Homo sapiens: one gene and its partners. The protein of the gene in region 3 purifies or fractionates together with the protein of the main gene of each other region. This does not show direct contact. Each region holds a gene or a part of one and is shown on either strand. Other genes may lie near its edges.

Region 1 (7,027 bases), on a different chromosome or scaffold from region 3:
TTGCGGACCCAGAGCAGGACAGTTCATAGACTGGGGCACTGGTAGGGTGGGATTGGCTTCCTGGAGGAAGTGTCAGTGGCTGCTAAGAACTCTTGGCAGGGCAGAGTGGGGTGGGGTGAAGCTTCTTGTAGTGGAGAAACTGAAAGCAGTTGTGGAAGCTTGGAGGTGGGCCAACTGAGCCAGACCTTTGTTGCCTAGGGCCACCGGCTGGGGTGCGTGGCCAAGAGGGCACTGAGGAGTGCAGGAATCTTAACCTGGAGAGTGACATTATCTCAGATTTGCTTTTTTTAAAAAAAAAAAAAATTTAACTGGACTTGATTGGGTACGAGGGAGTGTAAGAGAGCAAAATCTGTGGTTCTCTCTCAGCTTGTTTCTGCACTTAATATGAGCAAGCCCAAAAGGACAGATTGCTCTACCTTTGCCACAGGCCCCTTGGCAAGTTAGATTAGAGAGATTAGAGAATGAGGAGGGATCTAGAAAGAGATAAGGTAGTTCACTGGGGGGCTTTTGAAAGAAAAACAGGTCCCAGGCCTGATATAAATCTGGCCTTTAAACTTCACAAACGAAACCAAAAAAGAAGGGAGCTAAGTCAGCCAGGGTGACGTGCCACACCCCAGAGAATAGAAAAAGAAAAAAAAAAAAGAAAAAAGAAAAGAAACAAACAAACTTGTTTCGCAGGATCCAGATCTTTGAACTGTGTCCTGGTAAAGGTTGCTTCAGAGTCATTTTGGTTCTGTGTTCATTAAAAATGTAGATCTAGGCCAGGCGCAGTGGCTCAGACCTGTAATCCCAGCACTTTGGGAGGCCGAGGCGGGAGGATCACTTGAGTCCAGGAATTTGAGGCCATCCTGGGCAATATAGTGAGACTTCGTCTCTACAAAAAATAAAAAATTAACCAGGCGTGGTGGCAGAGGTTGCAGTGAGCTGTGATTGCACCGCTGTACTCCAGCCTGGGTGACAGAGCAAGATTCTCCCTAAAAAAAAAAATAAATAAATAAATAAAATAAAGTAGATCTGACCATGTTATACCCACACTTCAGGCCCTTTAATTTCTCTTTATTGTGGTCCACAAGGCCCTGCATGGCCTGGCTACTGCTATCTGTGGCTCCTTATCGAGGGTTCAGGCACATGGTTTCCTTTCACCTAGTCGGGGGTGAGGTGGGGTGAGGGGCTTTGCACATGCTGTTCACTGGGACTGGAAGCTCTTCTTTCCACATTTTAAAATTAACTCCCAACCCTTCCTATAGAACTCAGATTCCTTGCCTTTCCTTTACCCCCCTGAGCAGCCTTCCCATTAGAAATTATCCAAATTCATCTGTACTCTTCCTGGTGCTTATATTATGATTTTTATGATTTGTATGATTATTTGATGTGCATTTAGAATCTTTGAATAGATTCTTAGCCATGCGGTTATTGACTAAGCGAATGAACCAGAGAAGAGAAAATGGAAGAAATGATTAGCTGTGATGTTAGCAGTTGTGGAATTTTAACTTAATCACTTCTTGACAACTAAGTAGAGATTTGTCATATAGGACAGTTCTAGGTGTCCCACAGATATTGATAGGATTGGGTTATTTATTTATTTATTTTTTTGAGACAGGGTCTCGCTCTGTCACCCTGGCAGGAGTACAGTGGCGTGATCTTGGCTCACTGCAACCTGTACCTCCCAGGCTCAAGTGATCCTTCCACCTTAGCCTCCTGAGTAGCTGAGACCACAGGCATGCACCACCATACTTGGCTAATTTTTGTATTTTTTTTGGTAGAGATGGGGTTTCGCCATGTTTGCCAGGCTGGTTTCCAACTCCTGGGCTCAAGCAATCTGCCTGCCTCCACCTCCCAAAGCGCTGGGATTACAGGTGTGAGCCACTGCACCTGGCCTATTTATTTATTTATTTATTTATTTATTTATTTATTTATTTATTTATTTTAGAGACAGGGTCTTGCTCTGTTGCCCAGGATGGGGTACACTGGCACGATCATAGCTCACTGCAGCCTTGAACTCCTTGACTCAGGTGATCCTCCCACCTCAGCCTCTTGGGTAGCTGGGACTATAGGCCTGCACCACCATGCCTGCTTGGGATTGGGTTTTTAATGTTATAAAAGAAACCCCAAGTGAATGTATGAGTAGGCCAAATCCAAATCTTCTTGAATTAAAGTATATCATCTACTAACTTCAAAAGAGAAACAAAACCCATTGACTAACCCTTCCTAAAGGAGCAGGCCATTTATATTAATACGTAAGAGGAGGCAATAGGGTATAGTGGCTAAGAACATGGGCTTCAGAGTTCAGGCTAATCTGAATTCAAATTTTGGGATATCCAGCTCTGCAACCTTGGATAAGGATTTCATTTAAGCCTTTATTTCCCTGTCTGTAAAGGAATGATGTTACCCGCCTCATGGCATAACAGTGAGGATTTAAAATGGGCTGTATTAGACATCCAGCATGGTGTCTTGCCCATGGCAAGCCCTCAGAAGGTAGGGGAGACGCTGTTAACTTGAAAGTCAAGTAAGAGCAACAGACTCAGTCCTGAATCCACCCCAGCTCTGCCACTTGTGTGATCTTAGGCACAGGTCACTTAGTTTTTCTCTGAGCCTCAATGACTGCATGTATAAAGTGGTGATCATGACTTCAACCTTAAAGTTAAAAGAAAAAAGTGTCCCCAGAATTCCTAGAACATAAAGATGCTAGGTTAATGCTGGCTAAATAAACGGAATTGCCTGGTGCTTTACTCGTATATCAGAGTCAGTGGCCACAAAGCATTTATGGAGAACCCAGTTGCTTGGGTTCTCGGCAAGGTGCCACATTTAAGGAGTTTCATGGGTACAGGACTATAAAATTAGTCTTAATTGAAAAAATAGGCCCAGGGCATGGTGGCTTGTGCCTGTAATCCCAGCAGTTTGGGTGGCCAAGGCAGACGGATCACTTGAGCTCACGAGTTCGAGACCAGCCTGGGCAACATGGTGAAACCCTGTCTCTACAAAAATTACGAAAATTAGCCGGGCATGATGGTGCGTGCCTGTAGTCCCTAGCTACTCAGGAGGTTGAGGTGGGAGGATGGCTTGAGCCTGGGAGGCAGAAGTTACAGTGAGCTGAGATCATGCCACTGCACTAGACCTTGTCTCAAAATAATAATAATAATGATTTATAATCTAGAAGTAGCACTGGTTGTAGAATATACAGAGAGCAGAGGTAGATGTGCCACCACAAAACAAAAAGCATCCTCTGTTGGCTAAGGGCTGGTGGGTGGGGCACTAGAACAAGCCTTATAGTTGGAGAGCGCCCCCAACACCTTTGTATTTGTCAGTCACTCCCCCAGAGAGCAAATTGTCTTTTTCATTTGTCAGCATTTAGAGCAGTGGCTCTCACCCAGGAGCTATTTAACCTCCCAAGGGACATTTGACAATGTCTGGAGACATTTTCAATCTTTGCAGTTGGGAGGAGGGAATGCAACTGGCAACTAGTGAGTGGAGGCCAGTAATGTTGCTATACATCCCACAATGCACAGGACAACTCCCCCCAACGAATGATTATCTGGTCCAAAATATTAATAGAATTAACAGAAGTTGAGAAAGCCTGTTTTAGACAAATACCTTTGCAGCACAGAAAGAAAAAACATCAATGGTTTTTGTTTTGCCCCCCCCTTTTTTTTTTCTGAGGCTTTTTTGAGGCAGGGTCTTACTCTGCTTCCCAGGCTGGAGTGCAGTGGGCTCAGGTGGTCCTCCCACCCTAGTCTCCCAAGTAGCTGGGAGGCTACTTGGCCAGGCGCACGTCACCATGGCCGGCTAATTTTTGTATTTTTTATAGAGATGTTTCGCCAACCTGGGTTTCGCCATGTTTAACAGGCTGGTCTTGAACTCCTGGGCTCAAGCAATTGGCCTGCCTTGGCCTTCCAAAGTGCTGGGATTACAGGCATGAACCACCACGCCTAGCCTAAACCAATGCTTTTAATATGAATATGACTAACACTTAAAATCTGAAAAATCTCACTTCGTGAATCATGGGCATATATTTTAAACAGCTTTATTGCGGTATAATTTATAGATCATAAAACTTGCCCACTGTAACTATGCTGCTTTTGAGTTAATGTATGCAGTTGTGCATCCATCACCACAACCCAGTGTTATGACTTCTTCCATCCCCGAAAGTTTCCTCTTGCCGTGAGTACCTTTTTTTTTTTTTTTTTTTGAGACGGAGCCTCACTCTGTCACCCAGGCTGGAGTGGAGTGCAGTGGTGTGATCTCAGTTTACTGCAGCCTCCACCTCCCGGGTTCAAGCAATTTGCCTGCCTCAGCCTCCTGAGTAGCTGGGATTACAGGCAAGTGCCACCATGCCCTGTTAAATTTTTTTGTATTTTTAGTAGAGACGGGGTTTCACCATGTTGGCCAGGCTGGTCTCAAACTCCTGACCTCAAGTGATCTGTCTGCCTGCGCCTCCTGAAGTGCTGGGATTACAGGCATGAGCCACCACACAAGGCCCATGAATACCTTTTTAAAGTGATATTTTGTATCAAATTGGTTGTTGGTTTGCAAACAGAAACTAAATTAGAAATATCTTTTTGGCAAGGCTTCAGATAGGCAATATTGTCACAGCAAAGTACAAAGCATGGAGGGAGGTGGATAAGATGTTGTTTTAAAAGATCAGTCTTTAGCCACATAAGTTTATTGCATACAATTGTATCCTGTGGTGACTTCTCTAAAATGCGGTAAGTGTCATAAAGCCAAGCATACAAAGGAAAAAATGTTTCATTTGGCAGGCACAATACAAAAAGCCTGAGAGAAAGATGTCCAAATTTAATTCTGTATCCTCAGAAATTTTCAGGGAAGATGGAAATTCAAGCCTGCAAAGCCTTCAGATTGCAATTTGTAGTTTTATATAACTGAGAAAGTGTTTTACAGGGCAAAACAGCAAAATCTGCTGAGGACTGTTTTGTTTTAGGAAGTGTGTGCTTGGAAATAGCGATTTGTGATATAGCGCTGTTTAAGGTTTTTGTTTTGTTTTGTTTTTAAAAATCATCTGGCAGATTTAAACCCAGTTGCCTCGGTGTTAGCCAGATTTAATTCTGCGGTTGTTAAGTAAATCCATAGGGTCTGATCCATCATGGTGACTATGGAGGGTGAAATATAAACTTTCCTGTAAGATGCCTGGGAGCAGTCAGCACATCTGCTTCTCAGATGAATACTCCGTGTAGTGCCAATAAAATTAGGATTTTCAAGGCTCAGTGGCTTCTGATTTAGTTAGTCTGTCGTTAAGAGAAAAGTGGCTATTTAGGAAAAATTGTCAACAGTTTCCTACTCTTGCATGCTGCTTTTCTGCTGTGGTCATCTGATTCAAACGGGGAATTAGAACAGGCACATTGGCTACTCACACATGGGGAGAGAAGGAGGGGAATCCTTGCTTCTTTCCCTCTATGCTGGGTGCCTTTGGGCAGCGCCCCCCTTTTCTTTTTTTTGAGACGGAGTCTTGCTCTGTCGCCAGGCTGGAGTGCAGTGGCGTGCACTGCAACCTCCACCTCCCAGGTTGAAGTGATTCTCCTGCCTCAGCCTTCCGAGTAGTTGAGACTACAGGCCCCCGCCACCACGCCCGGCTAATTTTTGTATTTTTAGTAGAGACGGGGTTTCACCATGTTGCCCAAGATGGTCTCGATTTCTTGACCTCGTGATCCGCCCACCTTGGCCTCTCAAAGTGCCGGGATTACAGGTGTGAGCCACCGCGCCTGGCCGGGCATCGCCTTAACTGCCTAGTTTCAGTTTCCTCCTTGGTGAAGTAGGAGTCCAGGTGCCACCTCATTGACTTATTGTGAAGATTAAATACTTCAGGATATATGAAAGTTCTTGGAACCTAGGCATTCCACAAATGTCTATTTAATTTTATTTGTAAAAAACGTTCCATTGGTATTAGCAGTTTGTGTGTTTGCCAAAGTGTTATGTCTCACGACATTTGATTCTTCTACCCGGGGAAAGTGGAAGGTAAGGGAGTTCATTTTACTAGCAGGGAACTGAGACTCAAAGAGGTTAAGTGACTTCTTCAAGCTACAGTGGTTACTCATGAAAGCGTCTGCCCAAGTAGATCCTCTTTCCTATGCACCATTTTGCCTCCTCTTCCAAAACTTTCGCATGGGGTAGAGGGGGTCGCTTTTCTTCCAAATGGTTTCTTGAGAGGATTACATTTGTTTTAGGCATTCTGCTGTCGTTTGAAATTTATTGTACTCCAATTGAGAGGTATGTTCAAAGGATTTTCTAGTCCATTGAACCTGTGCAGGCCATAAAGTAAACAAAATAAGCATTCTTTATTACTGGCCCAGGACAGACATATACATGCTCTTGATTGTTTTAAAGTTGACAATCAAGACTGGTCACTGTGCTGGCCCAATAGAATTCTCTGTTGAAGAAAGATGAAAGAGACACCTACTCAGGCTATAGAAGGTGCCAAATGTGTCAGAAAGTTAAGAAATTGACTGTCTTGAAAGTTTAGAAGTCCAGCTGGGCACCGTGGCTCCCCCTTGTAATCCCAGCATTTTGGGAGGCTGAGGCAGGCGGATCGCTTGAGCTCAGGAGTTCGAGACCAGCCTGGGCAACACGGTGAGACCCGGTCTCTACTAAAAATACAAATATTAGCAGGGCGTGGTGGCTTGCACCTATAGTCCCAGCTACTCAGAAGGCTGAGGTGGGACGACTGCTTGAGCCCAGGAGGCAGAGATTGCAGTGAGCTGAGATCATACCACTGCACTCTAGCCTGGGCAATGGAGTGAGACCCTGTCTCAAAAAAAAAAAAAAAAGATTTAGAAGTCCCCCAACCAGTTTATATAAGACGGTTCACACAACAGTATCTCAACATGATAAAAAGGAGTCATTAAAAAAAACTTTTAGTTGCATTACACATAAAGGGCTCAAATCATGTTTATAGCGCAATTAATTTTTACATGTGTATACATCTATGCAACTGCCACCTAGATAAAGCTGTAGGACATTTTCAGCATCTCAGAGGGTTCTCTTGTGCCTCCTCCCCACTCCTGGTAATCCTTATTCT
Region 2 (7,246 bases), on a different chromosome or scaffold from region 3:
TCTCACAAGGACTAAAAAGAGAATAATGTTCTCATTATGTGGTTCAATGCCACACCCATGTATCTGAGATATACATGTCACAATCTGGGAGAAGCCTGTCCTCAATTTACTTTAAATACCCAATTCTGCCTAGAACATGACTTAGACACATAGTAAGCTCTTGAGTGAAGTGCAGATGATAATGACACGATCACATACCACTTAAAAATATCTTAACACCTTTACTTAGATCTCATCTCATACTTGTAGCATTTCTTCAAATTTACTTTGAAAAAAGAGCTTCACTGTGTGTGGTTGTCATACACATTCTTCTACCCAACCATGGACCTCTTTCTTCCTCTCAGGCGCACTTCATCTAATTTTTTTAGCACTGGCCTGGCCTTTTTGGAGGAGGTGGAGTAGCTCTTCAGAAAGGCTTCAAACACAGTTTCAGTGTTGGGATGGGTACTGAGGAAGGCCTTCTCCAGGACATAGAGGTCTACTCCCTTATCCTCTGGAAGTGCTGAAATGAAACTCAGCCCAAAGTCTATGAGCACAATGTTCAGCTGTTCCAGGGGGGGTTTCAGGAGCATGTTGGAGGTGGTGAGATCACCATGAATGAGGTCTTCATCGTGCATTCGAGCCAAAACCTGCCCAATTGTCTTGGCTAAGTTGGAGAGACCCTGGGGAGTTTTTTCAGTCTCCATAGTGGACTGAATATAATCTCGAACAGTCACTGAGCCTTCAATTTCTTCCATATATAAGCAGTTGGAAGCATAGTCCACAAAAAAGACAACTGGGGCAGATATTCCTGAAATCAAGACATAAGTGGTTATTGGGTTGGATTTTTTTTAACGGGTAAACTTAATTTTCAAAGATTAAGCCAGTTTTTCCATCTATATCTACTTATTTCAGGACTATTGAGGAATGCTACAGGAAATGGTACAACTGAACTCATCTGGAATATTCCCCTGCTCATGCCCACTGCAGGACTATGCCTGGGAACACCCCACAGCTAAACTGAGGAGGCCATAGCTTCCTCCTCCCTTCCAAACCACCCTTTCTCACTGGACTTCATTTGTCACACTCACTCTCTAAAAAACAAACAAAACAAAGGCCGGGTGTGGTGGCTCATGCCTGTAATCCCAGCACTTTGGGAGGCGGAGGCAGGCGGATCACTTGAGGTCAGAAGTTCGAGACCCCCATCTCTACTAAAAATACAAAAATTAGCCAGGTGTGGTGGCTCACGCCTGTAGTCCCAGCTACTCGGGAGGCTGAGGCAGGAGAATAGCTTGAACTCAGGGAGCGTAAGTTGCAGTGAGCTGAGATTGTGCCACTGCACCACTCCAGCCTGGGTGACAAAGTGAGACACTGTCTCAAAAAACAAAAACAAAGAGCAAGGCACAGCCCAGTCAGAGCAGTTTCTACTGATGAGGACACAAACAGGAGGCCAAGCAGTGTGCTAGCTTCGAGGTTCATCTTCGTAGTCAGAGAGGACAGGGTTCAAATCCCAGCTGCTTTTCTTATTAGTTGTCTAATCTAATCTTAAAATTACATTAACTTCTCTAAGCCTCAGTTTCTGCTACTATACAAGGAACAATAGCTCCAATAAACTCAATGAATCTTTACTGAAAGTCAACCAGGCTCAGTATACTTTTCTAGAAACTGAGAGATGTTATCAATGGGGATACAGCAATAAACAAGCCAGCTATAATACAATCTCTGCTTAACGAAACAGATCATGAGGCTGAAAACAGAAATATGAATACACAAATAACTTCATGAAATCTTAAGTCTCTGAAAGGGCAGCAATGTGTCCGCTTGTTGGCTACTGAATATCCCCCACCCAGATCTCCCAGCACTTAACAATGTCCTGGTACCCACTGGTACCTAAAAAATACTGATAAAAGAAAGGCAAGAAGCGTAAAAGTAAAAAGCCAGGGCTTCTGAGTCAGAGGCATAAGGAGCTGAGGGCCTGGACCGGCCACTTAGTAACCGTGTAACCTTGGGCAAGTTACTTCTCTCTGAGTGTCACTTTCTCATCTGAGGACAAAGTTTATGGTGCTGGCGCACAATGATGTTTAATGAAAAAATAGGCAATTTAATGAAATCCAACATTTATTGGGCACTATGTGCCAGGCACACATTTGAACATAATACGTGACACACATACCTCCTCTAATGGTCACAACATCCCTATGACATGGATACTGCTACTATGTCTCCCATTTTACAGGTGAGAAAACCGAGGCTGAGAGGCTAAATAACTTGTTGAAAGGCTACACAAGCAGCAGAGTTAGTATTTCAACCCAGGGAGCCTGGCTCCAGTGGGGCAAGTACTTGTCATTACATGTTTCTTAAAACTAATAAATGGAAAGATAATGATCGAAAATTGAAACGAGTCAAATGGGGAAACCAAGGCTCAGGGAAGTTAAACATGTTCAACATTGAGCAATAATGACAGATCCCAGATTTGAACCAGGCAGAACGGCCTCAGGACAAAAGCTTGACGCTGCATGGCCACGTGGTTTCTTAAGACTTAACGAATGAAAAAAGGGATGAAAGAATAACATTTCCGAAAGGCCGGACACCGCAGAAGGCACAGAAGGAGAAACTGAGGGAAATCCAGCTTCGGAGCGCAGGGGAGTCCCTCACCCGCCCAGGCCCCAGAGCCTCGGGGCCGCCCACGCCGGGATCCCGGCCCACCTTACCAGCGCGGCGACAGCGGAGGAGCGCCCGGGCCTCCTGCACCGTCCGCCGTCTGCCAAGCCGCGCCTCCAGCGCCGGGTGCCGGTAGCCCTTGGGGAAGCGGTGCTTGATCACCGCCGCGCGGCCCTGGAAGCGGCCACGGAACACGCGCGCCTCGGCACCCTGCTTCACCAGCTCCAGGCCGCTCAAGAAGCGGCTGCTCCGCTCCCGGGCTGCGGCCAGAGCCTCAGCCTCCGGGGCGGGCTCCTCGCCATCGGCCGGCGTAGTAGCTCTGGCCGCCGCCATGACTGCTCGGCGCAACAGCTCCAACCGATCAGCTGTCTCTGAAAACTGTCGCGATGCTTCGGCTCGCTTCGGAAATCCTGGGACTTCTTCGGCAATCCTGGGACTTCTTCGGCTACCCGAATGCGTCCACCCCGGACACTTCCGGCCTGTAAGTGGTTACGCCTCCCAACTTTTCGGCTCTCTGAAGCCTGAGGTTCCCTGCAGGAAGGGCTCTTGTGGCCCCGCCTTCCGCCTCTTCGGCTATCTCCGTACACGTTCGGCAACGCTCAGTAAGTGGCTCTTCCCGACTCCTTGGCTCTCCGGAAATCTTCGGTGACTCTCGCAGCCGGCTTTGGGGGCCCACCTCTCAGTTGGTCGTCTCTTTCCGGAAAACTTCGGCGCCTCTCGAGAAAAACGTCGGACGCGCTTTGCTCTCTTCAGAAGTCTCTTCCGGGACAGCTGTACCCTCTAGTAGTCTCTTTTTGGAACTCCTCTTCCCCTGACTCCTACATTCCCCCCAAAATGTGCTCATACAAGTCAGAGTCGGAAGGGTCAGACAATGAACCATGTTTCCGACATCCTCTTAAGTGCTAGGATAACTACCATTTAGTGCATTCAGAAGAAATAAGGTTAAATGATGAAAATCCTTACAGAAAAGAAAATTGAGACTCAGAGCTGGCAGAGGGGGTGGTAAGATGGGGTGGGGAGTGGGGGCTGGGGAATCCGGGAAAGTCTTCCGGAGACAGAACCTAAACTGAATTGGGAATAATTAAACTTTTTCAGTTTCTACCTGTTTCATTACAAAGCTTATAATAACACAGGCTGTAGCAAATTCTTACAATACGGAACTTTGCACACGCACACATAAATAAATAAACTACCTATCCCCCTTGTGACACTGCTGGCCGTTAGTTTCTTTCCAGAATTTTCTTTCATTCAGTGTGCACACTCACACATCGTTGTGGCGTTTTTTCCAACATAAATGACATCATACTGTGGGTTCTTTGGCAACTTGCTTTTCATTTTCCTAAACAATTTATCTCAGACTATATTCCATATCAATACATACAGAGCTACCACGTCCTTCTACCTGGTCAGGCAGTTTCTTGTTGCTAAACAGTTGTTTCCAGTTTGTTGTTTCTCAGGAAAACACTTTACTTACTATTGCCAGTTTATTATAAAAGATAGTATAAAAGATAAAAATGAACAGCCAGATGAAGACGTACATAAGGAAAAGTAAAAATTGTACGTGTTTATCGTAAGTAACATGTTTTGAAATATGTATACATTGTGGAATGGCTAAATCCAGCTAGTTAACGTTACCTAACATACTGATCATTTCGGGGGTGAGGACACTTAAAATCTATTATCTTAGCATTTTTCAAGAATACAACCCATTGTTATTATCTATAGTCACCATGTCGTGCAATAGATTTCATGAATGTTTCCTCCTATCTAACTGAAATTTTGTATCCTTTGACCAACTTCTCAAAATCCTCCCTATCTCCCTCCCCCTACCCCACCGCCTGGTAACCACCATTCTACTCTGCTTGCATGAGTTCAACTTTTCTTACCTTCCTCATATAAGTGAGATCATGGGATATTTGTCTTTCTGTGCCTAGCTTATTTCATTTAACACAATATCCTCCTGTTCCATCCATGTTGCTGTAAATGACAGCATTCCATTCTTTTTAAAGGCTGAATAGTATCCCATTGTGTATATAAATGTACCATATTTTTATCCATTCATTTAGTGATGGACACTCAGATTGAGAATTGTGAATGATGCTGCAATTAACATGGGACTGCAGACATCTCTTCAATATACTGATTTTGTTTCCTTTGGATATGTACCCAGTAGTAGGGTTGCTGGATCATAAGGTAGTTCTATTTTTATTTTTTTTGAAGAACCTCCATACTGTTGTCCATAATGTCTGTACTAATTTACATTCCTATCAACAGGGTGCAACGGTTCCCTTTTCTCCACATCCTTGCCAACACTTATTATCTTTCTTATGTTTTAAAATAGCGATTCTAACAGGTCAGAGGTGATATCTCATTGTGGGTTTAATTTGCATTTCGCTGATGATTAGTGATGTTGAGCATTTTTTTTTAATATACCCGTTGTCCATTTTTATGTCTTCTTTTGAGAAAGATTTCTTTGGATCTTTTGCCTACTTTTAATTCAGGTTTTGTCCTTTCTTACTATTGGATTGTATTCCTTATATATTTGGATATTAACCCCTCATCAGATGTATGGTTTGCAAAAATTTTCTCCCATTCTGTAGTTTGTCTTTTCACTCTTTTTTTTTCTTTTTTCTTGACTGTGCAGAAACGTTTTAGTTTGATGCAATTCCATTTGTCTATTTTCACTTTTGCTGCCTGTGTTTTGAGAGTCCTACACAAAAAATCGTTGCTCAGGCCAATGCCATGACATTTTGTCCCTGTTTTCTTATAAGAGTTTTATAGTTTTGGCTCTTACATTTAAGTCTAATCCATTTTGAGTTGATTTTTGCATATGATGTAAGATAAGAGTCTAAATTCTTTCACATGAATATCCAGTTGTCCCAACACCATTTATAGAAAAGACTGTCCTTTCTCCATTACGCGTTCTTGGCATGTTTGATGAAACTCAATTGACTATAGTGCGTGGATTTATTTCTGGGCTCTCTATTCTGTTCCATTGGTCTATGTGCCTGTTTTTATGCCAGTGACATGCTGTTTTGATTACAATAACTTTGTAGTATATTTTGAAGTCAGGCAATATGATGCCTCCAGCTTTGTTCTTTTTGCTCAAGATTGCTTTGACTATATGGAGTCTATTATGATTCTATATAAATTTTAGAATTTTTTATTTCTACAAAAATGTCATTGGAATATTGATAAGAATTACATGGAATCTGTAGGACATTTTAACAATGTTACTTCTCCAGTTTTGTTTCATTTTTTTTTGTTTTGTTGTCTCTTATAAACAGTGCTGCAGTGAGCAGGCTTATCCAGCCATCTTTGCACACATGAATGTTTCTGAGGACATCTTTCTACAGGTGATATTGCTGGGTTGTAGGTGACAAGCACTTTGAAACTCGACTCCTCAGCCAAACTACCCTCCCAAAGTTTTGTGCCTATTTATGCTTCAGTCAAATTCATGTCTCATTTTCCCATATCTTCATCTTCATTGAGATTCTCAGGTGCTGGAACGCTCAGTCAGGGGGTGGAGAGGGAGGGTGCTCAGGTTCCAGGCAGTGAGAACAGACACAGGGTAGGATTGGGTTGGACAAGGACCAGCAGCTCCACATGGCTGCTGGCAGGTTGGCACTGGGGACAGGCTGGGAGCTGAAAGAACAAGGACAGTGGCCTGGTCCCAAAGGATTTCTCTTGCTGGAGGAGAGGTGCTGTGAGCCTGGGGTGACTACACCAAGCATGGCCCTTTGGGGCCTTGACCTCTGGCTGCAAAATATGCAGCTGAGCTCTGGGTAGAACAGCCAAGCAGTAAAGGGGAGGGAGGGGTCTACTTTTTAGCCCTTTCTGAGCCTGAAAGAGAACCTATGGCCTCTTCTTCACTTCCCACCCACCAGCACCAGATGCCCATTCAGTGATTTATTCACCAATTAATTTAATAAATATTTATTGAGTGACTACTATAGGCCAGGTACTGTGCTAGGCCCTGGGGACAGAGCTGTAAACAAAATAGAGAATAATTATTACTGCCCTCATGGAGTTTACATTCTAGTGGGTGGAAACCAGCAATAAACAAATAAGGAAAATGTGTCATTGACAGGGGCTAGCAGGAGATAAATCCAGCAGGAAGGGGGATGGGAAGGATGACGTGCATCTGGGCTTGCCAGGGACAGCCCCAGTTTTTGCCTGTTGCCCTGGCATAACTATTATTAGTGCCCCCGCCTTTTTTTTGAGAAGGAGTCTCACTCTGTTGCCCAGGCTGGAGTGCAGTGGCATGATCTTGGCTCACTGCAACCTCAACCTCCCAGGTTCAAGTGATTCTCAGGCCTCAGCCTCCTGAGTAGCTGGGACTATAGGTGTATGCCACCATGCCCAACTAATTTTTTTGTATTTTTAGTAGAGATGGGGTTTCACCGTGTTGGATAGGCTGGTCTCAAACTCCTGACCTCAAGTGATCCACCTGCCTCGGCCTCCCAAAGTGCTGGGATTACAGGCGTGAGCCACTGCGCCCAGGCTAGTGTCCCCTTTTTACTCTCAAAAGCATTCTAGTTTGGATGATACAATATATGGTTACCCTATGTGTAGTAGAGTGGGGGTGGGAGGGAGTGATGCAATT
Region 3 (7,027 bases):
AAATTTTCACTCATTTTGATAATAATCTTATATTCAGGTTCTTGGTAGTTTTCTGGATATGATTTTATTCTATTAGATCACCAACTGATAGAAATTTCCATATAATGAGCTGTCACATCTTAGCATTTACAAAAGATCTGGACATTTCATCCAGTCTGACAACTTATTTCACTGTGGTGGAGAAGTCTTTGTTTTTCAGCTTCAGACTTCCATTGCTAAATAATAGTTTTTTATTTGAAATAAACATGTTGCCATTTATCCCTACACTTTATATGTATGAATAATCTTGACTTTTAAATTAGTTTAAAAATCGGTTAAAAGTTAAAAAACTAAAAATGTGATTTGGAGGACATCAGAATAATGATATATTTCTGATATGTATTTGTGTACATACTTAAAGAGAAAGATGCATGTTAAAACTTTCACAAAACACTTGTACTTCCTCTGTTTAAGGCTCTGAGCTAGAAGTAGTAGGATTCTGAATAGGGCAAGCCTATATTGGACTCCATCCAAAGGTTTGTATATATTGAAGTATCAAAAGAGCCTTCATCTTTTCATCTTTCATGAATGGTTTTACCTCTAAAATGGTCCCATTACACAGACCTAAGAATAGAATTTGAACGACATGTCATTTTGTTTTTGTTTTTTTATGAAAATCTGTAGCTTTCTTGGCCTTTTGAAATGGTAACTGGGTAGAGCATTTCAGTGTATTATTAAAAACTTGATAACTTAGAGCAAAATAGACCCGTTACTCTAGAAATCTTATTTTTGTGACAATTCCATATGTAGAGCTTAATCGTGTAATTTTTGTGATGTTGCTGGTTTGCCCCTTTGAAGCTTGACCTCAGAGATGATGTGGTGAAAATTACAATCGATTGGAACAAGCTCCAGAGCCTCTCGGCATTCCAGCCTGCATTGCTCTTTAGTGCACTTGAACAACACATTTTATATTTACAGGTAAATTTCTTGTTAGAAATGATAACCCGATATTGAAAATAGAAATTGATTGTGGTTAAGTTAGTTGGAGTATTTGACAGTTCTAAACACTATATTAATAGTGTTGCTAATAAAACGTTATTTACATCCGGATTTAATCTAAATCTGTTAATTTCAGTAGTGATCAGGACAGTTAAGGGAATATAGCCCAAAAGACCAATGTGGGTATGAGTGAATGAATGCAATTCTATTCAATTCTAGACCTGCACTGAAAATTCAATACAGTTCCATCTATGGTGGGTTATAATTAAGCAATAAGACACGGCAGGTGTGTGTCATGCTATGATAATGATTCCATGCCTTGGGTGAGTTTGGAGGCTCATGGAGTGCTTTCAGTGGTTCAAGAAGGGGCATTATCCCAGCATGACACATCCTGGAGTGTCTATTGCAATTAAACAGTTTCAGCATAGTTTTTAAAAAGAAAGTAATTTCTATGACATTAATGTCTCATCTTAGTAAGTAGCCAGTCACTATTTTATCATTTCTTTTCCTTAACAGTTTGAAATAATTCATTCTTTATATTAGAAGTTAATATTGAATTGGTATTTATAATAGTGTTGTTATATTTTTAAATATTTCATGTTAATAACTGAACAGTATTATGACCTTGCTGGTTTCTAATTGAACATCTTTGCAATTATAATTGATGTAAGTTTGCAGTTTATCTCTAATCAAAGTGTAAAATGTGAAGTGTCAAAAAGATAAGTGGAAAAACTGGATTGGTCAGTTTACTGTGATTAAGGTGTTATAAGATTTCAAAAGAGTAGTATAGCGAACAATGGAAGCAAAATTGTAGGTATGAAAAAAATAATTGGAACGTTATTAGTGTTAGTGTGTTTTGACTAATGGAATAGGCATTAATTTTCAGCCCTCCATTCATTGACTTTGTGGGAAATTTTAACTGTTTCATGTTAAAAGTAATAGTTAACCCTGTTTTTAAAGGGCAGAGCAGTGAGCTCTAGAACTCAAATGAGACCTCATTGTGGGGAGTGGGGGAGGGGAACAGTAAATGAGTAATATAGTTTAAATTCTACAACAGGGGTTTTCCCCCTGTAGTATAGTGATAGGCCTCTGCCTGTTTTCAGCTATAGATCTTTTTTTTTTCTTGTTCGTTTTCTTTTTTAAAATTTAATTTTATGACCAAAAGATATCTTGCCATGTCAGGAAAAGTCTGAGTGTTCACTCAGCCTAACACCTATATATTTCATGTCTATGCTTCCTCATTCACATTGGCCAACTGCAGTTTCAAGTGGAGAATCTCCAGTGATACAGTGATAATGCAGGGCTTTGCTGAGTGAGAGCACTAGCTCTCGTGTTAAGGAGGAAAAATACTAAGCCTTAGTGTTCTGAGGAGGCATTTGAATGACATGTTAATTAAGTGGCATTGGTGCCAGAGGCTGAAGGCTTTGATTTGGCACAAAATAAAAGATGAGTGACAGAATGATTCTCTCAAAGAAAATTTTAAATTTCCTTAGGTTTTCTTTTCTTTTTTCTTTTCTTTTTTCCTCTCTCCTTTTTTAAAAAACAAATTTATAGCAAATGATAATGGTTACAATAGCAGAGAATAGTGAGTACTTATATGTGGTCAGATCTATGTGTCCTGGTATACCAACTTTTTATATTTATTAACTGATATTAAGTATTTCATTTACTTAGCAGAAATTTATGTAAATATATTAAGTGTGTAATTAATTTTGGTCAGATTGAACCTCAGCAGATGGAATTGTGTTGTTCTCAGCCTTTTTTAGCAAAACTTCAGTCTCCGATTAAAGAGGAGAATACAACTGCTGTTGAAGAGATAGGAAGAACAGAAATGGGGAACAAAAATGAAGTAAATGACAAATTTTCCATTGGCGACCTACAAGAGGAAGAAAAGCACAAAGAAAGTGATTTAAGAGATGTGAAAAAGACACAGATCCATTTTGATCCAGAAGTAGTTCAGATAAAGGCTGGAAAAGCAGAAGTAAGAAGGTTTTTTGGCGGGGGCGAGAGGGTATTATTTTAAAAAATCTTATGTTTACACTGTTAAAACTTGTTGTTTGTAGATTGACAGACGAATATCTGCATTTATTGAAAGAAAGCAAGCTGAAATCAATGAAAACAACGTCAGGGAATTTTGCAATGTTATTGATTGTAATCAAGGTAACTACCTGGAAATTAATTTTCATAGGGTTTTAAGCACAATTTTTATAGTTGCTCTAATCTTTTATTTATTTTTTAAATGAATAGCTTTTAGAACACAATTCAATTTATTTCATGGATTTAGTTAGTAATTAAGACAGTAGAGTTTCCTTCTGCTTAATAATAGACTATATTGCAAACTGGTTTTCATTTTGGTTACACAAAGTAAATGCTAACATTAAAAAGTGTTTATCACAGGTGAAGATTATTTTAAAGTTCCTTTAGGAAATGAAGGTGAGGTACGAGTGAGAAGGTTGATCTATCTCACTAGTAAAAGGAACTGAGCTCTATGAATTTCAAACCTATACATGTACTGTGAAATCATGATGTTAATACGTAAGTGAACTTAGTAAAGTTAATATTCCTCCAGAGGGAGCAGTTTTCTCACTACTCCTGAGCTGTTTGAAATGTCCTGTGTCACGATACAACCAATTTATCATGAAGACCATGGTGTCTTGCTTTTTTCCTTTCTGCCATAGTGCATACATTTGCTGTTTTTCATCTGATTCACCTTTACCTCTCTACTTGATGCTATAGTACATTTACAAATCTGCAAGTATGCTGCAGAATACAAAATATTGCAATGCAGTGCCATAGATTATACTCAGGCACCATAGTAATAATCAGAACAAGTAGTTCTTAGGAAAAATTATGGAGAAGAGTTCATAATTGGAATGAACATGTTTCTTGTTGCCTCTAATATCTCATGGCTAATTATTATGAACATAGAATTGTCAGATGAACCTAGAAATGACTCATATCACATTGGTACACTGATTCTCTTAATGAAATAATATAGGCTGGTATTGGGTCCTGAATTTAGCTGTGTGCTACTATTAACATTACACATGTGCATCTCTAAATTTGGTATATTTTCCTGTTAGCTTTTCAGAACAGGTGCAACAATGGCAAAATCTCAGGTACTACAACCAACTACAAGCGACTATGAGAAAGGGTTTGTTGAGAGAGCAAGCACATGTGTCACTAATGTTATTCCTCTGTTCTCCCTGCTAACTCTATTATTATAAACCACCAGGGGATAGAAATTGACGAGAATTGAAATGCTCAGCAGGATTCCTTGGCCCATTCAATTCTTTGCTGGCTCAAAACAGTGCTAGCAAGAATTGCTGTGGAGAGTGACTAGCAGTCATACACTCACACCATGCTGAATTTCTCACTGATGGTCAGTTAATCTATATGTTTGGAATATAGTTCTGGAATGGATGATAGCTTCTTTTTTTAACCCTTAGCCCCATGAAATGGTAGGAAGAGAATGGAGAAAGGATGGCCCTTTAAGCATATTTTGAGGTGCCTCCAAAAAAAAAAAAAAGGAGGAAAGATGTCTATTTAGTCTCTAGATATAAAAGCTAAGTGGATTTGGAATTTTATGCATACTATTTGATTTATCAACAGAACTACTAAGGAAAGTTCAACTGAAAAAAATACAAATGTATTTTAATATGTTAGTGTGTTCCTTTTAATACCTACAAATTTAACCTAACTATAAGCAGTGGAATTTTTAAAAATCAAATTTCATAGGGGGGAAAAAATAATTTTTTTTAAAGAATCTCATTTACCAGCCATTTTTTACAAAATATTCAGGGGAATTTTACAGGAGATTTACTGCCAATGTGTGGCCTTTAAACATTATTTCAAACATAAGTATATATTATTACTATGTAGTATCGTATGTTAATATATAACAATTATGTTAATTAGTTGTATTATATGTTAACATCTTTCCAATTTTCCCCTTTTGTAATTTATGCATTGATACTTAATTTGAAAGAAACTACTTTTCAGCTTGGAAAAAAATAGGGACAAATTTTCACAATAGACCTTTACTAAAATGAAACTTTTTTGAAAAGTGGTGGGATAAGAAGAAGTAGATGACTTTTGTGATGAAGGGTTTTTAAAATGAGCACTGGAAATCTAGGTAGAGTGGAAATGTATGTGTACTTGAGGTTTTGAGGTCATCTTTGTGTGGAGTTCTGAAATAAAAATGTTAAATAATTCTTTTTGTTGGATGTTCACTAATTTGGTCATTAAAATAAAAAATGCTGAATTAAAAGAATTCTAGTAAAAATGATGAGTTTTATTTCTACGATGAAGTAGAATTTAAATACTCTATGGTAGATTATTTTCTCCAGTGGCCCAAATAGTGACATTGGTTTTCAAAATTGTATCAATTTGTGCCACTTAATGTTGATGGCTTTTCTGTATATAAATCTGAACATTAGGTAAGAATATTAGATATTATGATAAATTTTGACAGGTAAAGAAGGTCACTAAATTCTATCCTATGTGTGATAGTAATTTATTGTTACTATTATTTATTAAAATTATTATGAGTAAAATGTTAATATGAATTATTGAAAGTTTATTAAAATCTCATACATTTGAAGGGAAGAATATATTTAAACTTATATTTATCTAAATTCTCCTTAGAAAATAGTTGTGCAAGAACTGATGCGATTTTTACCCCTTACCCCGGATTTAAAAGTCACGTAAAAGGTAAGTAACCACCACATGACATCTGAGTCACTGACAGAAGTCTAGATTATTAGCAAAATGGAATAGAAATAACTTTCCCATCTAAATTTTATTTTAAAACAAAAACATCTTGCCGTCCTTCATACTTGTGGTTAGATGGTCTTTATGAAAAAAATATAAAGTGCTGTTAAGGAATAAGAATTTCTGATTTTTGAAATACAAATGTATATAGGCTCAAAAGTTTCTTAATTTAGTTTCTAGAGTTGTGAATACATACGGACCACAGACTAGACCTGAAGGAATTCCAGGGTCAGGTCATAAACCTAACAGCATGCTTCGAGACTGTGGTAATCAGGCTGTAGAAGAACGACTACAAAATATTGAGGCCCACTTGCGGTTACAGACAGGTAAGCAAAGTGCTAAGTGGCACCTCATAATGAACCTTTGCAAATGGTTAAAAAATTGCAGTTCATTTAGTCACCAAATTTTCATTTAGCTCCTAACATTTCTTGAACAGTAAGTGCCAGTCACTCAGGAAGTGTTATGTGTATGTCAATTCACTTAAAAGGTCATAGTACCCTTTTGAGATGGTGGTGGTGTTATCACTGTACAGATAAATAAATTGAAGTTTAAAGAGCCCAAGCAAACATGCCTAAGATACTAAGTGACAACTCTAAAAAAAAAAGAAAAAAGAGATAGTCCAGTCTTGCCCAGGTTGTACTTGAACTCCTAGGCTCAAGTAATGCTCCTGCTTCAACCTCCTGTGTCAGTGGGACTACAATCATGTGTCACTACTGCACCCTGCTCAAACCCAAGTCCTCACTGGGTGCAGAGACTGAGTCTCCCTCTCCATTTAGTCACCATGTCTGTTGATTCTGTTTTCTAAATAAATATCTCTCAAATCTGCCCACTTCTGTCTTATCTCTACTGCTACTACTAGAGTTGAAGCCACTGTGATCTCTGGCTTGGACTGATGGAAGGATATTTACTGGTTTCTTTGCCACTGGACTCCTCTAGATCATCTCTACCCTGTGGCCAGATTGCTTTTTCTAAAGCTCAAATTTGATCTTGTTTCTTCCCAGCTAAAAATGTGGAGATTGGGATTGAAGGGGGTTTGTAATTTTAAATAGTATTGTCCACATCTGTAGTTCCAGCTACACCTCTGGGCTTCCCATCTCCCACTCGTTGTGCTGCTTTAGGATCTTTATACTCATGCCCTTCTGTCCATGCTTTTTCTTCCTAATCCTAGACCAGTGCAGATTCACCTTTTGTATAATCTTATATAGCACCTGGTATTCCCTGCTCCCCTTTAAAGCAGTTATCATGGTTCTGTTTGTTTAATGTCTGTCTCCTGCTA
Region 4 (7,027 bases), on a different chromosome or scaffold from region 3:
TGGGTATTAAGCTATTAAACACTATTAGAGTCTTATCAAAAGAACTTATAAGCCAACTTAAATAGGCTACAACAAACCAAAGATGGGCCACTTTGAACACTAACAAAGGCAGTAACATCAATGAATTGAAATACATTAAATACATTTAGGGCCAATAGTTCATAAGAATACAAAAAATTTTTAAACCTCATTGGTCATCTTTGAAGGATATGAGAAAATGAACTCATTATTTTAAAAACCAGAAAACAGGCCAGGCATGGTGGCTCACGCCTATAATCTCAGCACTTTGGGAGGCCGAGGCAGGCAGATCACGAGGTCAGGACATCGAGAATATCCTGGCCAACATAGTGAACCCCCGCCTCTACTGAAAATACAAAAACTAGCCGGGCATGGTGGCACATGCCTGTAGTCTCAGCTACTCAGGTGCCTGAGGCAGGAGAATCACTTGAACCTGGGAGGCAGAGGCTGCAGTGAGCCGAGATTGCACCACTGCACTCCTGCCTGGGCGACAGAGCGAGACTCTGCCTAAAAAAGAAAGAAAAAGAAAAAAAAGGGAGAATTGAGCAATTATCCCACCTTTTCTATATGTACCTCAGAGTAACCAAATAGTTGACTAGGGGGCAGGGGGATTACTTTTAGAATAGTCCAGCAAGTAAATGAAGAAATGATAGCATAATCACTATTCTGTAACATCTAATGAATTAATCAATTTAGTCAATGATCAGTGGCTGTTATGCCAAAAAAAGAGACAACCAGGCTGATGAAAGTAAACGTGAAGTAGTCCTGCCCACCCTAACAAACAAATACATCTGAATCTCATCAATGCTCTTGACCTACTATGAATTTACAGGAAGTTCAGAAAACAGAGGAACAGATTAAATGACAAGAAGATGTAATCAATAAAATCCATACTGCAAAATTCTATAAGACAAATGAACCAGTTCTTCAACAAAAACATTGGGAGAGGGAAAAAAGGAAAGTGAAAGAGGGAGAATGAACCTATTGTGATTTATGGGCTTTATTTGGATCCAAACCCAAATGAAGAAATTAGAAAAAAAATCATGAACAGTGACTATATATTTCACTGTATAACAAATTACCTTTTATAAACATGATAATTATATTGTGTAATATCTGGGACTTGCTCCAAAATAATCCAGAGCAGAGTTGAGGTGGGTAGGGAGTAGAGATTAAAATAAGGTAGCTTCATGTTGATAATTGTTAAGGTTCATTATACTATTCTATTTTTGTATATGTTTGAAATTTTCCTCACAAAAGTACATTACTTAAAAACTATACATTTGACTTGTTCATTAAAAGAAACCAACATTCTCTGAAGAGTGGAAATAATTAGAAAATCCTACTCTCTTCTATACCTTGATGTATATAACAACTTGATGTGTATAACTTACTGATGCATCTTCAACAGCAGTGTTCATGTGGCTATGAAAACAAGATCGGTCATCATCTTCATCCATATACACTGGCGGTTCATGTGAAGTCATGAAAGTGGAAGGCTTAAAGAGATGCTTATTAAGAGGGTGCTGTCGTCTGCTTGTTGAAGACTAAGTAAGAAAACAAATTTTTAATTGGTTCAGTGAAAAATCATTACAAGAATCAAAAATATAAAAATACAAATGTTACTTCCAACAAGTCTATCAGAAGAATTTCACTCTATCCTTTAGCATACTCTTATGTTGTTGCTTTTTCTGTTTTCTGCGTTTTTAAAGCATAACTAGCTTTAAAAAATTTTTTTTAAATGTAGGGGAAATACCCCAACAACGGTAAAATGGACCACATGTTTAATATCTAGCTTATATTTGTATCCCCAGCATTTATCATACTCTTGGCAGTCAAATGCTGGCTGCACTGAATTCTTATGATCATCTTATAGAAGATCAGACAGGATGAAGTGGCCTATGCCAGACATAAAACTATCCAGTAAAAAGTAAAAGGAAAATTTCTATAACATTATGAATATCTGAAAATACTTATCTAACATTGATTGACTGCTTATTCTATGCCAGGGTTGTCCAATCTTTGGCTTCCCCGGGCTACATTGGAAGAATTGTCTTGGGCCACACATAAAATACACTCACACTAAAAAAAAAAACAAAAAAACAACAAAAAAAAAATTTCTTGTAATGTTTTAAGAAAGTTTACCAATTTGTGTTGGGCCACATTCAAAGCTGTCGTGGGCCACATGTGGTACGTGGGTCATGGGTTGGACAAGCTTGCTCTATGCCAATGTCATTTAATCCTTACAACATTCCTATAACGTAGTTATCATCACCTCTAATTTAAAAATGAGAAAACTGAGGACAGGGAGGTTAAGTTTCTTGTTCAGTGTGTTGCAGCTAGATAGTGGTAGAACCAGGATTATAAACTAGGCCTATGTGGTGCCCAAATTCTCACTTTCCACCACTATGCAGCCTGCCTGTCTTGATCAATAGCACAGTCACAAAGAACACCCTCAGCTACATGAAGAACCATCATTTCACCTGTTTCCAAATTTAAACTCTAACAATGGCAAGCAATCATTGTAAATATAGCTGTACTAGATCTTCACAGCCAAAATACAGTACACCTAAGGGAAAAAAACACATGTACGTTCTCCAGTATTCCTTTTGTTATCATTATCCAGTGTTAATGATGAAAACATGGTTACATCTATAAAATTAGCTTAGAAATTAACCATGAAAATAAGAGCTCTTACATTAAACACAGGTTAATGTAAGGTTCCAATATTCCACAGTTATAGGATGAACTCTACAAATCTACACAGGTTGTGCTATATTTGGTGGGAAACCCAAAATATTTAAAACAATTGGCAAATTAAAACAAGCTTCCAAAGCTCGGTTAAAAAAAATTTTTTTTTAATGTGTAAAACATGAAACTGTATAGACAATATTCTTAATGTAAAATTACATGAAATAGCTTCAGTATGGAAGGATAACAGCACTAGATATACTCTTAGCTTCTCTTTATGAGAAAGATGTCAGTGGTGGGGAGGGAAAAGTAACAGGATAACTTATTAAGAAAATTTAAAACAGCCAATTAGGTGTCTTTATTTTTTGCGATTACAAGAACGAACAGCTGGGACTGCAGGTGCGTGCCACCACACCCGGCTAATTTTTGTATTCTTAGTAGAGACGGGGTTTCACCATATTGGCCAGGCTGGTCTTGAACTCCTGACCTCGTGATCCACCCGCCTCGGCCTCCCAAAGTGCTGGGATTACAGGCGTGAGCCACCGTGCCCGGCCGAAACTGGCTACATTTTAATGTAGTGTCCTGTTTGGGAAAGAAACAGTAGCTTCTCCACTGTAGAAAGCAACAGAGAAAAGTGGAAAAAGTGTGGCATCAGAATGGGAGAGAATCAGTGGTTCCCAGACTTAGCAGCTAAGCAACTAGATAATTCACTCAACATACCTGAGGGCCCAGTTTCCTTACCAAATAAAAGGTTATAGAACAGTAGAGTCTGGCTCAGAGCCCTCAATATAACAGCTAGCTATTAATATTATGTCAGTAAAGTGAAGATGATAAGACTACTTATATTTCAAGAATTGTAGAAAGGATTAAATACAATATTTTATTTTTTTAAAGATACGGGACCTCACTATGTTGCCTAAGTTGGACTCAAACTCCTGGCCTCAAGTGTTCCTCGTGCCTCAGCCTCCCAAGTAGCTGGGACAACAGGTGCACACCACTGTGCCTGGCTTTAGAATATCATAATAAACCTTTCTATTCTTGGATTTATGTAGCATTATCTACAAAACAGAAATTGATCTATTAAATTTATTAAATGATTGATTTATTAAATAATCAAATATCCTAAAAACTTTACCCTCACAAAGGCCTTTCTAACATATTTTGAATCTAAAATCTTTCAAGTAGCACTCATTCACATTACTCCAAAGAAAATAATGAAGAATCATGAATTTCACTGAGCAGCAATAATGGAGTCCTTACCCTCCACTTTTGCACAATATAAGGAAATGCTTAGAATGAACAGAAGTTTTAAAATACAACACTATTCTGTCAAATGTGTAGATTTTTACATAGCAATTCTTACTTTAATAAATTTAATCTACAGTTTACTTTCATGTATTTTCTTTTACCTTTTTGGAGTATATATATAAGTTTGGTGTTCTGCCTGGTACTGGAATGCCAGCTTTAGTTAGCTTTATGAAATACTTCTGTACTCGGCTGGCAACCTAAGGAAACATGACAAGTCTCTTAACACAATGAGATGACATACAATACCTGAGTCGTTTTTAAAAATTAAAACGTACATGAGTATCTAATGAATGCTAAGAATTCAATACTCATCATGAATCTAGAATTAACAATAAACTGCCACCAAATACACATATATTTTAAAATCTAGGCCAAACAAAAATTATTCAAGTAAATTTAAATTTGATTCTAAAGCTAAACACATATTTCAACTTGTGAACACTTACATTTGTAGTATAAAAACACATCTATTAATATAGATGGGAATATGAAGGAGTAAACTGCAAGATACATTTTTAGAAAGACAACCAGGAAACACTAAGGCAATGAAACAAATCTGTTTGCTCAGTATAACCAAAAAGTATACAATTAGTATATTTAGTAAGCATTCAAGAGAAATTAAGTCCATTATATGTTCATTTTTTAATATTTCGTAATGATCCAAAGCAGAAGTATCTCAAGTTGTTTCTGAAATCAACGAAAATATATACAATTTTTTTAAAAAAACACCACATACTACAGCACTCTGTAGCTGAAAGTGTTATGGCAGATCGCCCAATGTCAGCTGCATTATTCTCCTTTATTAAAAAACTACCAAAAGCATACCAGCAATCTGCAGTCATCTCCTCAATTACCTGTTTTGCTGTCCTGTTGCCCAATTCATCTGCTATCTTCTGCCAGCGTCGAGATTCTACTTCTTCAGGAGGGTATTTGATGAGTAGCTGTTCCAGCTTTTTCTAAGCCATACCCAAGACCAAATTTAAGAAAATATGTATTTAATTTTAAATATTGGATTTCTAAATAAATACATTCACATTTCATTTCAAAATGTAATACTCTCTCCCACCTTTGGGGGTTACGTAATTAGAAATCCTCATGGTAGGAAAAATTTCTAGTTAGAAACTTAAGACTTCACAGGGAACAATGAAATTAGAGAATAAACTTATGAAAGAGCTTAGAAAAGTTTTCTATTCACATAAGTAAAAATATCTCATAAGAAAACAGAAAATAAGTAAACAAATTGGTAGATTACACATTTTAGTGATTTCCACTGAAATCACTAAATCCACTGAAATCCAAGAAAAGATGGTCAATCTTTTCTTACTTTTCTTTCCCCTACAGTTTTAACAAAAACGTGTAAATTCACTTAAATTTCGACTATTAAAAGAGGCTTTTCCTTCTTTTGTATGGTCCTTTATTCAAATATTTGATTTTAATATTCCTTCTTGTCTCCTGTATCTTCTCATAGTCCTAAAGATGCAGAAAAATCTGGATGCTTGAAATAAATAGATTTCCCAAAGCTTTTTATAAACTGTTAAATGTATAGCTGTGGGGTTAATAGCCATATGAGACAAAGATGTGCCTCAAACTTCACCCACTAACAACCCTAGCCATTAGCCAAAAAACAATTCTAAACTGTATGCCAAAACTGACTTGACTTCCTCACCTCCCTTCGACAACAAAAATAAGAATGCACTTTGAAGCTCAGCTTTACTGGCCTCAGGTTTTTCTCTCTCCCAAAGCTACATTACAAAAACATCTATTTTATTCTATCCACTTCTACTCCCCTCTCAAAACCCAGGTTCCTTCTTTTAAAATTATCCCCAAACAAAAGTTTACACATTCTCAAAATCCAAAATTCTTGACGTATGCAAAAAGGTATACAAAAATAAGCCTAAATATTTAAAACTCATGGCTAACAGGCATCACATACAACAATATACACCTGACTCAAAATACAGGCTCTTTTCTTTTTGAGATGGAGTCTCACTCTGTTGCCCAGCCTGGAGTGCAGTGGCATGATCCTGGCTCAATGCAACCTCTGCCTCCTGGGTTCAAGCAATTCTCCTGCCTCAGCCTCCCGAGTAGCTGGGATTATATATGCACACGCCATCACACCCGGCTAATTTTTGTATTTTTAGTAGGGTTTCACCATGTTGGCCAGGTTGGTCTTGAACTCCTGACTTCAAGTGATCCACCCATATCAGCCTCCCAAAGTGCTGGGATTACAGGCGTGAGCCACTGGACCTGGCCTCATAATACTGACTCTGATGTTAACTGTTTACTTGTTTTTTTAAGCCTACACGATTTTGAAATATTTATTACCTGTTCTTCAACAGTCCACAACTGGTTAAATGTTTCAGGTTTGGTATCATCACACAAGCGTCCTCTTATCATCTGCACATAAGACAAGGCTTTTGTCAGAGAGAAAATAACAACACCTATCCTTTGATATAGCCAAATAACACGCAAATTGTGGAATTTTTAAATTAATTTCAAAATATTTGAGTAAATTTGTTTTTTAATGTATATGCTTTTTTTTTAACTGTTTACAAAATGCCTTCACATTATTTTATTTTGTTTGGTTTTATACTCTCAGCAATCCTGTGAAATACATAATAGTACTGTAACTTCATTTTTTAAAAAAGGGAAAGGAAATGTGGGCTCAGAATTGAAAAGTAACATGTCCACTGAGGTTCATCTAACTAAGAGTGGCAAGGCCAGGACTCAAATCCTGGTCACATTTCACTACACACAAAGGAACTACTATTTTTAGAGTAAATACTATGTGTCGGATACTGTACTAGGCACATTGCATATACTACCTATTTAACCCTCACCAACAACCCTACAAGATAGGTAATATCAACTACATTTTATACAAAAGGAAACTGCAGCTTAGAGACTTCAACGTAAATGATGTCTGAAGGTTCACGGCTAGTAAGTTAGGACTCCAACCTAAGTTTCTCTTAATTTCAAAGTTCTTATCTCCTTTATCTTCCAGTGAAAG

Evidence for each region.
Region 1: the proteins of MBIP (region 3) and KAT2B purify together in Homo sapiens (affinity purification with mass spectrometry; 6 studies listed by BioGRID and IntAct, with this or other methods). This does not show direct contact.
Region 2: the proteins of MBIP (region 3) and TP53RK purify together in Homo sapiens (affinity purification with mass spectrometry; 4 studies listed by BioGRID and IntAct, with this or other methods). This does not show direct contact.
Region 4: the proteins of MBIP (region 3) and ZZZ3 purify together in Homo sapiens (affinity purification with mass spectrometry; 6 studies listed by BioGRID and IntAct, with this or other methods). This does not show direct contact.

What each region holds. Positions count from the first base shown.
Region 1 is NC_000003.12:20,043,440-20,050,466, forward strand, and holds part of KAT2B (histone acetyltransferase KAT2B), read left to right. Parts: intron 1-7,027. UniProt on the Homo sapiens protein: Functions as a histone acetyltransferase (HAT) to promote transcriptional activation. Has significant histone acetyltransferase activity with core histones (H3 and H4), and also with nucleosome core particles.
Region 2 is NC_000020.11:46,686,442-46,693,687, forward strand, and holds the start of TP53RK (EKC/KEOPS complex subunit TP53RK), read right to left. Parts: upstream 3,004-7,246; 5' UTR 2,974-3,003; coding exon 2,691-2,973; intron 791-2,690; coding exon 312-790; 3' UTR 1-311.
Region 3 is NC_000014.9:36,310,623-36,317,649, reverse strand, and holds part of MBIP (MAP3K12-binding inhibitory protein 1), read left to right. Parts: intron 1-837; coding exon 838-957; intron 958-2,734; coding exon 2,735-2,959; intron 2,960-3,041; coding exon 3,042-3,138; intron 3,139-5,625; coding exon 5,626-5,691; intron 5,692-5,924; coding exon 5,925-6,077; intron 6,078-7,027. UniProt on the Homo sapiens protein: Inhibits the MAP3K12 activity to induce the activation of the JNK/SAPK pathway. Component of the ATAC complex, a complex with histone acetyltransferase activity on histones H3 and H4.
Region 4 is NC_000001.11:77,574,656-77,581,682, forward strand, and holds part of ZZZ3 (ZZ-type zinc finger-containing protein 3), read right to left. Parts: intron 6,415-7,027; coding exon 6,343-6,414; intron 4,974-6,342; coding exon 4,872-4,973; intron 4,215-4,871; coding exon 4,119-4,214; intron 1,566-4,118; coding exon 1,413-1,565; intron 1-1,412.